2 linked regions of the Homo sapiens genome follow. The protein of the gene in region 2 binds, or shares a complex with, the protein of the main gene of each other region. Each region holds a gene or a part of one and is shown on either strand. Other genes may lie near its edges.

Evidence for each region. Proteins that work in one complex are often made in the same cells at the same time.
Region 1: the proteins of SMAD1 (region 2) and YAP1 are in contact, whole or in part, in an NMR structure (PDB 2LAW), measured with the Homo sapiens proteins. Residues at the interface, in NP_001003688.1 of Homo sapiens: Thr222, Pro223, Pro224, Pro225, Ala226, Tyr227, Leu228, Pro229, Pro230, Glu231, Asp232, Pro233; in NP_001123617.1 of Homo sapiens: Glu237, Ala239, Met240, Thr241, Tyr247, Ile249, Asn250, His251, Lys254, Thr255, Thr256, Trp258.

Annotation. Positions count from the first base shown.
Region 1 is NC_000011.10:102,106,134-102,113,452, reverse strand, and holds the start of YAP1 (transcriptional coactivator YAP1), read right to left. Parts: upstream 3,007-7,319; 5' UTR 2,605-3,006; coding exon 2,284-2,604; intron 1,905-2,283; exon of another isoform or gene 1,682-1,904; intron 1,006-1,681; exon of another isoform or gene 708-1,005; intron 1-707. UniProt on the Homo sapiens protein: Transcriptional regulator with dual roles as a coactivator and corepressor. Critical downstream regulatory target in the Hippo signaling pathway, crucial for organ size control and tumor suppression by restricting proliferation and promoting apoptosis.
Region 2 is NC_000004.12:145,554,842-145,559,695, reverse strand, and holds the end of SMAD1 (mothers against decapentaplegic homolog 1), read right to left. Parts: intron 1,906-4,854; coding exon 1,762-1,905; 3' UTR 520-1,761; downstream 1-519. UniProt on the Homo sapiens protein: Transcriptional modulator that plays a role in various cellular processes, including embryonic development, cell differentiation, and tissue homeostasis.

The sequences.
Region 1 (7,319 bases), on a different chromosome or scaffold from region 2:
TACAAGCAGAAAAAATTCTGCATTCAGACCCCAAAGATCTGAGTTCCAGTCTAAGTTGGCTAGTGTGACACTGAACAAGTATCTTAACTTCCATATGCCTGTTTTCTCCTTTATAAAATAGTTTTCATGATAGAAAAATGGATGTATATGAAAGAACTTACAGTCACCAGTTTGTGTTGTGAACAATAGTATTTACAACCTAGATTTGTACTATTCATAATCTTGCATAGTTTTTAAAATATTTTTAATTAGCATTAGAGTTTGATTATCAAAAAGTTAGAATTTCCTAGATTCACAAAGGTAAGGAAACTGGAAGGACTCAGTAGAGTCATTAATGCCTTAAAGTGATACACCTTTTTGAGTTTCCCATCAGAATAAGTATGATTTAGGAAATCATTAGGAGAAATAAAAGTCGAATTTACAGATGCAAAACACTTAGTTAAAAACTTATTTAAAACAAACAAAACTATAATAGTTTATGAATTTTAGAACTGCTGGATATAAATTCTTGTAAAAATTATTTACTAGAAGAAAAAGTACACTTCCCAGTTGTAATTCTTTGTGGCTGATGCCACAAAATGGGGGATCCAATCTATGTGTATTATACTTTGAAAACATACCGTGCAGTCTGTAGGGTGCATGCCAACATACATTTACCCACAATGAGTCCATAAACCCACTTCGAGGGGTAAGAGAAAAAAGCATACCTAAGACAAATTGAAGTGTTTAGGCAAGCAGCTAAATTGTTTTTCCTTCTTTCCTCCTCCTTAACCCGGGTTTTTGTCATCAGGTTAAGTGATTTTTTCTGAGTTCCAAAACCCTTTGGTCTCCGACAGGAGACTATACAACAGGCCTGCAAATAGGAGAGGGAATGGGAGTGGGGGCGGTAACTCTTCTTTCCACTCAAGTTACATCCCGAGTGGGCTAACTACATTGCAGTATTTGGAAAACCTATTAACTTTTGGGCAAAGTTCCTATGCTGAAGTTTAGCCTGAAGCAAGTTCTCAAAAAAAAAAAAAAAAAAAAAGAAGAAGAAATAAAAAAGAAAGAAAAAGAGAGAACCCTACACAAAACAAATCCACTGGGACCTATTGGAATGTTAACACTCATTATAAACAGTTTCACTTCTATGCTGAATCAAGTTGGCACAATAATCGAACATTGTGTATGTGGAATAGCAGCCATGTTCATATCCGCAATAAGAATTAAAAAGCAATGGCGATCCTAGAATTAGTCATCGCTTCCCAAACATTAACTTTTAATCACAGTTGAACTAGGCAGGACTTGGCCTATGAGTCAACCTGCAGTGTATTATCAAAGGCTTGTGTTAAAACCTCGGTACTGTAAAGCGCAACTCAGTTCCTGCGCAACGTACAGATGTGGCTAATTCAAAAGCGTTTCAGCCGACTGTAAATAATAGTCTACAACTGGGAAACCAACACGCGACCTACTAAGTTTGATAAGAGCAAGCCGGCCCAAGTTCCAACACACAAGGGAAGAGCAGGGGTGAAAGAACTCCATAAACAACTTCCAGGAAAGTCTGGGCAGGGGAAGCCCGAAACCTGTATTCCGAAATCGCCTGAGCCGCGAGGAAAATAAATGCTTACGGGAGGGGGAGGGGAAACGGGAGGGGGGAAGGAAAGAAAGAGCAAAAAACTAAATGGACCGGTTCTACCCCCACCTCTAATCAACACTGGAAAACAAGAGAACAATTATTTGACTCCCCCAGGAGACTGAAGTGGACCGAGAGGCCGCAAAGGAAAGGGGCCCAGGGCTCAACTTCACAAACTCGGCCGCCGCTGGCAACACACCCACACACAAATGCCAGAGGCCCCCCTCCCCCTTTCCCAGCCCGGCCCGGCGGGAGCGAAGGTGCGGAGCGCGCGGAGGCGCGCGCATTGTGCAAGCCCACCGCGGCCCAGGCCCGACTTTTCCCCACCCCCTTCCTTCCTCCCCACCCCTCCTCCACTCCCGCCAACCTCTCGGGAACCCCGGGAAGAAAGAAAGGAAGAAGGAGGGAAAGCACGCCCCCCGGGGCTGCAACCGCAGAGAGAAACTCAGAAGGGAAAAACAAATCTCAGCCCCGGACTCTGGGAGGAGTGGGGAGCTGGTCACCGCGGCGGAGTGGACGACTCCAGTTCCACTTCGCCTCGGGACCCCCACCCCAGCTAGAGTTCCCGCAACCCCCCTCCCCTGACCAGAGCTGGCGGCCGCGGCTCCCGAGCGCCCCCCCGGTCTGAGGCCCGCCCGACGGGGAAACGGGGAGAGGGGCAACGAGGTTACCTGTCGGGAGTGGGATTTGGGCTCCGGCGGCTTGAAGAAGGAGTCGGGCAGCTTCCGGAGCCTCATGGGCACGGTCTGGGGCACGTTGGCCGTCTTGGGGTTCATGACGGCGTTGAAGAGCGCCTCCAGGTCGGTCTCCGAGTCCCCGCGGACGTGCACGATCTGATGCCCGGCGGGGGGTGCCTGCGGCGCCGCCTGGGTCGCCGCGGGTGCCGGTTGCCCGGGTCCGGACGGCGGGCCCTGCCCCTGCGGGGGCTGCGAAGGCGGCTGCCCTTGGCCCTGGGGGGCCGGTTGAGGCGGCGGCTGCTGCCCGGGATCCATGGCTTCTGCCTCCCCCGACGCGCACCCCCTGACCCAGGCGAGCGAGGGCTACGCCCGGACGCCCCGGCTCCACGGGCCGAGGTGGAGAAGCGGCGACGGCTGCGGGCCGGGCGGCGCTGTCCTCGCTCTCAGGGCCGGGGGGCTGCGCCGCGGCCCCGCATCCCCCGCCCCGGCGCCTCCGCCCCCGCCCTGCGCCCCGGCTCCACTGGTCTGGCGGCTGCGCCTCGGGAGGGGCTGCGAGGCACTCGGACCTGCGGCGCCTGAGAACTTTTTCCCTCCAACTCCCTTGACGGAGGCCGGACAGCTCGTTGCCTTTCCCCGCCTCCCCTTTCTCTTTATTTCCTTTTCTTGTTCCTTCCTTCCTCCCTTTCTTTTCCCTGGCGGCGGCTGCGCCCGACTGAGACAGAAACTCGCCTCAAACGCCAAAACTAAAGTTAGGAGAAGCGCCCGCCCGCGCCGCCGCGGCCCCGCCTCCTCTCGGCTCTTCCTTCCTCTGCGCGCCCGCCCGCACCGCGGCCCGGCCGGCAGCGCAGGGAAACTTTTCGCTGCAAGTTGCTACATTCCTGCACACTCCCGGCCCGCGGCGCCTCTCCCGGCCGCACGTGACCCGCTCGCCCTGGCCCGGTCCGCCCTTCGCCCGCGCTCAGCCGGGCAGGGGCCCGAAGCGTGCCCCGTATTCTGCCCCGCGAACCGCAAACGATGGGTCCAATCCGGGTCCGAACTGTGGTGTCTGCGGAGAACGCGGGCGCCCTTGGCTGCAGGAAGTTCTTCCGCTCCGCTCGGCCCCTTTTCCCCGCCCGTGCTCGGGAAAGGCGCTTCCAGTTCGCCTGGACCTGCGAAAGGGCCAAGGCCGAAAGAAGTGGAGAGAGGATGTGCGAACCCACCTCCTCCTCCTCGCGTTACCCCGGCTTGACCGAGCGGAGCGCCTGTGCGAGCTTAAAGCCGCGAGGATAGATTGGAGTTAAAATAGATACCGTGAGCCGGCATTGATGTTAATAAAGATCCATTGTTTTCAGCATTAACTTTATTTTGTAATTGTTTCACTTATCTGTTAGTCTGCAAAAACTCACTTGAGAGGGGTAAACGGTTACTGTAATTGAAGCTTTGAGACCAGGTCTGTAACTCAGTGTAACTTATTAAAAGAAACAAAAACACTACATTTTCCAAATAGTGAAATCACATCAACTTTTTTAGTACTCGAATTTGCAATAGTCACTGGAAGCCGCAACCCAAAAAATTAGTGCGTCTTCAGGTACAAGCATTCATGCCTCTGTACCTGTCTTTCATCCTCAAGGAGCTGGGTCCCTACCCCTGCTATCCCTGTGCCTGGCCCAACGGTGGACTCCGTTAATGTGGACTGAATAAGAAATGAATGGGCAAGGAGGTCATCCCAGGCACCTGATGTACAAGGAGCCCTTCTGGAAGCCACTCAAAAACAATAGAAATGTTTTTTAAGTCATACACTCTGGGTTTTTTTTTTTTAAAGCATCCTTGTTGAGATATAATTTATATACCATACAGTTTTTGCAATAGTTGTACATATTAGTATATTTAAGCAATTCACTGTTTTTTTAAATATATTCATAGGATTGTGCAACATCAGTCTAATTTTAAATGCACAAGCCCATTCTAAGGAAATCTGGCTTTCTTGTTTTAATGATTTTGTCTACAATGCTAGTGAAACAAAGGTATAAGTAGGATTAAGCAAGGAAAAAGTCCGTGAGCAAAAAGGTAATTTCTTCCTTCAGCCAGAACATGCCCAGGAGAATTCTGAAGGATCTGTATCACTTGGTGTGGTAGGGCTCGGCCAAAGGAGCAGGCCTCAGACACTCAAAATTCTAACAGAAGATTCCAATCAACTACTCTGAACCCCCAGTTTCCTGTCTGAAAAAAAGGATCAGAGTAAATGACACCCATGACTAGTTCTTGGATTTGTTCCCACTCCTAAATGTCAAGTGCATTTAACGACAGACTTGCAGGTTCTGGAGTTACAGAGTTTTGAGTTCAGGTCCCAGTTCTGCCATTTACTAGCTGTGAGGTTTTGGACAAGTTATTTATTTCCTGTTCTTTAATATTAGCATCAGGGGTAATAACACCTACCTCATAGTTGTTGGGGCATTAAATGAGTCAATGGATATAAAGTACTTAGCCCAGTTTGGGACGTGCAGTGAGTTCCACATCAATGTCAGTTGTCATTGTTGTCCCATGTTCACAGATTATTTCACAGGTAGTAACATAGCCTCTCCTTGCAGCAGCCCTCTCTTTCTAAGCACAGCCTCAGGGACCCTGTTGGTAGTCCCTTCCTCTCTTATCCAATAATCAGTCCACACAAACAAAACCTTTGGGCAGAAACTATGCATTAAAAACTTTACCTGAAAGAAAACTTTAGGAACCAAAGTGGGCCGGGTGCGGTGGTTCATGCCTGTAGTCCCAGCACTTTGGGAGGCCAAGGCAGGGGAATCACCTGAGGTCAGAAGTTCGAGACCAGTCTGGCCAAAATGGTGATACCCTGTCTCTACAAAAAAAAAAATACATAAAAATTAGCCAGGTGTGGTGGCATGTTCCTGTAGTCCCAGCTACTCAGGTGGCTGAGGCATGAGAATCACTTGAACCCAGGAGGTGGAGGTTGCAGTGAGCTGAGATCACACCACTGCACTCCAGCCTGGGCAACACAGCGAGACTCTGTCTCAAAAAAAGAACCAAAGTGATTGAAAACCTGGGATTGGAATAGAAGCTGTCCCTTTACTAGAGCATTTACTGCTATGAACACTAACTAAAGGGCTTCAGATACAGCAGAGGCTGCTTTGTTCAATATTGTTTCACCTGCCATTAAACTGAGGACAAAATTACTTTGATAAGTGGAGTGAAAGGGTCTTTGGAGTGACTATGTTCTGTAAGCACTTCTGTATCATCAACCAAGATTTTGTAATTTACTATTCCTCGTTTATACAATTTCAACCACGGTGTAGTAGGGGATAAAGATAACATATTCAGTCCTTTGTCTACTCCCTTCCTCTTCTGCCCATTTTGTGGACCAATTATCTGTTGGCAGCATCTTAAAATAGGGAGTCACCTTCTTCGTATAAAGATGCACCCTTATCCTGGATCATTTTCAATGTCCAGGTAGATCACTATCTCAAAACATGCGTATCCCAATTAGTTGACCTGTCAACTAAAATGGACCCTCATCTCTACTTCACTTTAGCCACCTGCCCCTTCGTCTGTACTCTGCATCATCCAGAAATACTCCAGTAGTGAAGTCAGACTATGGTATACCATATTCTTAATAATCATCTGGTTCTCTTATTTCATTACTCACATCTCATTTATCCTTAACCTCTCCCTTTTCTGCAACCTATCACTCCCTTCCCTTTTCATTTCTGTTATGGTTTGGGTGTTTCTGTCTCTCCAAAATTCATGTTGAAACGTCTCCAGTGCATCAGTATTAAAGAGGTGGGGCCTTTAAGGAGGTGATTAGGTCACGAAGGTTCCTCCCTCCTAAATGGGATTAAGAACTTTATACAAGAGGCTTCACACAGCATTCAGCTGTTTTGCCCTTTCATCTGTCTGCTGTGTGAGGACACAGCCTTCATCCCTTTAAGAGGATGCAGCAACAAGGCACCATCTTGGAAGTAGAAAGCAGCTGTCATGAGACAGCAAACCTGTTGCTGCCTTGATCTTGGACTTCCCAACCTCCGGAACTGTGAGAAATAAAATTCTAGTATTTATAAATTATCCAGTATGTGGTATTTTTTATAGCAGCACAAACAGACTAAGATAACATCCTTGCCATTCAGTTTGGAAATCGTAATTCATTGTTTAAACTTCCCATGCCAGGCATGATGGCTTATGCCTATAATCCCAGCACTTTGGGAGGATGAGGTGGGTGGATCATCTGAGGTCAGGAGTTCAAGACCAACGTGGCAAAACCCTGTCTCTACTAAAAATACAAAAATTAGCCGGGCATGGTGGCACATGCCTGTAATCCCAGCTATTTGGTAGGCTGAGGCAGGAGAATCACTTGTATCCAGGAGGCGGAGGTCACAGTGAGCCGAGATTGTGCCATTGCACTCCAGCCTGGGCGAAAGAGCGAAACTCCATCTCAAAAAACAATAATAATAATAAATAAATTTCTCACAATTATCTAAATCTTCAATCCCGTTCTCTCATGGATTTTAATGAACCGAATCTGTTATACTGTTTTAATCCAGTTATCTGTGTTTTATTCCAACGCCTAAGCTTATAGGGCCTAGCCCCACATTCATGAGAAGCTTCAATCAAAGCTTTTAACATTTTGTCCAAATAAGGTTACACTACCTTCCCAAATATATGCCTACACTATACAAGGAGGCATTCTTTGTAGAACTTTAAACTTTGTCTCATCACCAAATGACACTATCTATAATGCATTATGAATTAATAGTTTAAGTAGGCCAAGTGTGGTGGTGCACACCTGTGGTCCCACCACTTTGGGTTGCCAAGGGGGGTGGATCACCTGAAGTCAGGAGTTTGCGACCAGCCTGACTAATGTGGTAAAACCCTATCTCTACTAAATACAAAAAAATTAGACGGGCGTGGTGGCACATGCCTGTAATCCAAGCTACTTGGGAGGCTGAGACAGGAGAATCACTTGTACCTGGGAGGCAGAGGTTGCAGTGAGCCAAGATGGAGCCATTGCACTCCAGCCTGGGCAACAAGAGCAAAACTCCATCTCA
Region 2 (4,854 bases):
GGAGAAAGAATAGCATCTATTGGGCCAAGAAATAATCTAAGTGTCCTTCAATCTGTGTCCCTCATTGGTAAACTTTTTTGTGGGGGAATGGGTAGTGTTGGGATCATCCCAGCCTTAAGTAGACTGCAAAGGTAGTCATCTTCTCCTGCTGCAGTGTGAGTTCTCATCCCTCCCCCTTTATTACCTCCTCCCACAGTCACGCTTGTATCTTCATCTGAAGTTTAGAAATTGCTGCTTTGGTTGACTGCATGGTACTAACCAAAAAGTGCTGCTGCTGTAATTTCTAAAATTAAAAAGTTTATACACTTAGATTTTGGTAGTTTTTCTCAATTTTTCAAGGTGTACATGTCCTTTGTTTTGATTTAAATTGGCTCCGGTCTCTTCATGCTGCTGTGTTCGAGTCTCTGTATTAGTAATTTCATTCATGTTTGGTGGAGGATATTTGAGAAAAAAATTCTCAGAAGAGTAGCAAACTTTACTGATCCTAAAATCTAGTAGGTGAATAAAGGAAATGACAAATTTTTAATCAAAGTAAGCAATAATGACAGGTTTATTGAAAATTTCCAGTAGAGAAAACCCACTAGTTTTGGAATAAAAGTACTCAATGTACGAGAGCATAAGTGAATACAAAAGATTAACAGAAGGAAAATAAAACCAAACATAGTACAAAAAAATTTAAAAAGTTTGAAATGAATTCAAACTGGGATGTTCTTTAAATCCTCCAAATATTTAACAGAGTTACTAAGTTTGGCAAAAAATTCACTTGAAAATTAAAGCCTATTTCTGTACTGTAAACTCCGTAAAAACTGCTTATTAAATTCAAGCACTCCATATAACTGGTATTGAAACATGTAGGCAATTTCAGAATAGCAGGAATTATTCATTTGCTCTCACAGTTACATGAATTAACCAGCTGCAGAACTGCTTTTTGAAGAGTATGAGAAAAAAGAATGCCGAGAGAGAAAAAAATGATAAAAATCTCTAAAAAATGGAAACACAGCAAAATTCAGGTATCAGTTTGTTTCTTTAAAGCAACAAACTGAATTTTTACAGTATAGTCTACATTTGCAGTTGTCATTTCCCTCTTCCCCCCACCCACCTCAAATACTCCTAAATTCACTAGTCTAATCAATTCTTAACTTCCAAATACTCTGTACATACATATTTAGCAAAAAGCATATGCCTAGCATTATTCTGACAGCAAGTATGGTCAGCATACAATTTTAGAAAGATTATTATGTATATCATCAAGATTAACCTTTACTTAAACGAACAAAACCATCGCTAAACAAATAGTTTTAAAATATTATGAAAACCCATGAAAAGAAGACTCAACATGGGCTCTAAACCTGATAAAACACGTTTCAGAACAACTATTAATGCTAAACTTCTGCCCAACGATGACCTTAAAGTGCCAAACACCAAAGAATCTCTTAGGACCGTTTTCTAATAGACAATTTGTCCCTGGCTTGGCCATCTCTCCTTTAACTGTACACAAAGTCCTGCTAAAAGTCTGAATTTTAGTTGATTTTACAATAGAATGTTACAATGTAAACTAAACAGGTTCTTGATATCAACAGTATGTTACCAAGGTGTGTGTGTTTTTTTTTTTTTTTGTTTAAATTTCTGAATCCAACAGTTGGTCACAGAGGTCAAGTATTATCAAGGCTCCTTTGTCAGTTCTCAATCGTGTCTGACTCATCCATCCTTCAAGTACATGCAAGGCTCAATAGTTTTCCAGAGGCAGATGCCTGGGGCCATTTAAGATACAGATGAAATAGGATTATGAGGTGAACCCATTTGAGTAAGAACTTTATCCAGCCACTGGAGGGGGCCGTGCAGATGTATCTCAATCCAGCAGGGGGTGCTAGTAACATCCTGGCGGTGGTATTCTGCTCCCCAGCCCTAGGAAAAACATACTGGAGGTCATTTAACTTGTTTAACTCAGTGGTTAAACTTATTAAGTAAGAAGAGTTCACATAACCAAAGACTCTGATTAAAGCTATGCATCTTTCCTCCCTGACCCCCCCGCCCCTGGGGAGAAAAAAACACACATGCACAAACGCACGCATAATTTCGCAGGCAATTTCAAGGGATGGATGTTAGCTCCCCAGGGTCCATCCATGGATTCCAATAAGAATTGCTGGTCTTGAGGAATGAAGGTTTTAAAATACATTATAAAGTTATCTTAATAAAGACACTTTAAAACTTTTAATTGCCCATTACTGATAGTAATGTAATAGCTATTATTAAATTCTCATTTTATCATCAAGAAAATAAAACAAAAAAGCTATGCTAGACAGAATGACATTCAATTTCTTCCCTATTCAGCCACTGAAGGTCCCCCTATCAACACACAGCTCTTGATCTTTCAATCTCTGAGCAAAACGGGCAGGAGTACATTCAAGTATCCAAAAAGCTATTATTGACACCTAGCCATTGCCATGAATCAATACATTCTATCATTCATTTGTACAAGAAGGTAGCTTGGCAGAATTAGTGCATTAAGACAATACAGTTCCATAGAATAAAGTCACTATGAAAAAGAGAAAAGTAACTGCTACTGCAAAGATCAAAAACTCATTGGTGAGGGTGGACAATGAATGTGAAGTTCTGATTAATCCTTTAATCACTGTTTCATGAGGAATATCAGAGAAGGTTGGGTTCTATTTATTTCTGCTATCTATCTACTCCCGTAGTTTTAAGAAATACATCTGGGGCCAGGCGCGGTGGCTCACACCTGTAATCCCAGCACTTTGGGAGGCCGAGATGGACAGATCACCTGAGGTCGGGAGTTCGAAACCAGCCTGGCCAAAATGGTGAAACCCCGTCTCTACTAAAACGAGGTGTGGTGGTGTATCCCTGTAATCCCTGCTACTTGGGAGGCTCAGGCATGAGAATCACTTGAATCCAGGAGGCGGAAGTTGTTGTGAGTCAAGATCACGCCACTGCACTCTGGCGTCGGTGACAGAGAGAGACTCTGTCTCAGGCAGGTGATCACTTGGGGTCAGGAGTTTGAGATCAGCCTGGACAACATGGCAAAACTCTGTCTCTACTAAAAATATAGAAATTAGCTGGGTGCGGTGGCCACACGCCTGTAATCCCAGCATGCTTGGGAGGCTGAGGCAGGAGAATTGCTTGAAGCTGGGAGGCAGAGGTTGCAGTGAGCCGAGATCACACCATTGCACTCCAGCCTGGGCGACAGAGCGAGACTGTCTTAAGAAAAAAGAAAAAAAAGAAGAAAAAAGAAAATATATCTGAACATCAGAACTTGTATGAACTACATCTATGTAGATATATATATATCTACATAGATGTATGTACACTCATGCATTTGTAAATATAAACAAACTCCTAAAATTAATTTACAGGCTTATGTGCAGGTTTCCTCCATCAGATAGCAAGATCTTTGAAGGCAGGAATTTATCTTTACCTCCAATATACAGCATAATGACAGAAAGCAGAAGCTCTATAAATATGTGTTCAGCTGAGCTGACTTGGAATTTTCAGACATAGAATTTAAAGTACAAATAATTTATAAAATGTGTTTTATGTTAATATCCAAAAATGATCATTTTAAAAACAGCACAAGATTGGCTATTGTTAGTAAAATGTTCTAATTTCTTTAAAATGTTGAATGGGAGAGGACAAAGTATGCAGTCCTTATAATAAAGAACAGTTTTGTAAAAACAGTGTGCAAATTTTTTGTTGCTAACATATGATAAACAACTTTTCTTTAACATTCAGCAGGATTTTTAAATAATATTTACCTTCAGCTCTCCAAATCCAACTTCCAGGCTAAGTTCATTATATCTTGTATAACTCTCCATTCTAGTGCTTATCAGATTATAATTAAAGATATACTAGGGCATAAGGATCTTGATGATAAGAGACTTTAGGTGCTTTTTCATCTTTGTATTACTTCTCTGAAATAGTGCTAAAATATCTGCTGAATGAATGAAATCTAATAAATTTTGAATGCATAACTTTGCATTATAAATACCTTTTATTAGTGTAAAGGTTGTTTTTACTTGTGTAAAAGTAAATTATTAAAACTCTACAAAAGTAAAATAATTAAAATTGATTGGGTAAACAATAAGAAATGAGTTTGAGCAGAAAGCTAATTGGAACATTAAAGTAATAAATTCTCTTAGAGTGGTCCTTCAATAACAGACTCACTGAGGGACCTCAGTAATAATTACCACAGTTCTCAACTCCATCCACCCCCATTTCAAAGACGATAAACCTGAGAACCAGAGAAGAAATCTGTGCCTTAATCACACAGTTAAAATGGCAGAAAAAACTGGAAACCGCATCTCGACTCTCAAGAGCTGTTCTTTCCTCCATACCAATTAAAACAATAAACAAAAACACTTCTGGCAGGTCACTGTTCTTATTTTAAAAATCATTTGAGCCAAATGCTAAGTCAAAAATTAAACAGCACATGTTAACAATGAATAAGATAGTTCTTTGTAGTCCCATATGTACATAACATATAGGTTAACCTCTTTAAAGGGTAAAAAAATTTTCTTAATACTAACAAGGTACCAGACTCAACTACAAATAACTGTTGAAGTATACTGCAAAAAGCAAACAAGCAAACAAACAAACAAACACACAAAAACAAACACTAAGGGAACACACTGAAAATCTAAGATGCTTTAAATAAGTAGGAAAAGTAACTATATTCAGGAAAAGATATCTTTGATCTAAGGGATGATTAACAAGTAAGGCTCCAAAATTATCCTCAGTAATAAATACATTACAAAACAGGTTTAACAACAAGTTTGGTGAGCTTCTGAAGAGAAGACATAAAAGATAATTGCCTCACTCAAACATATAATTAGTTCTGTT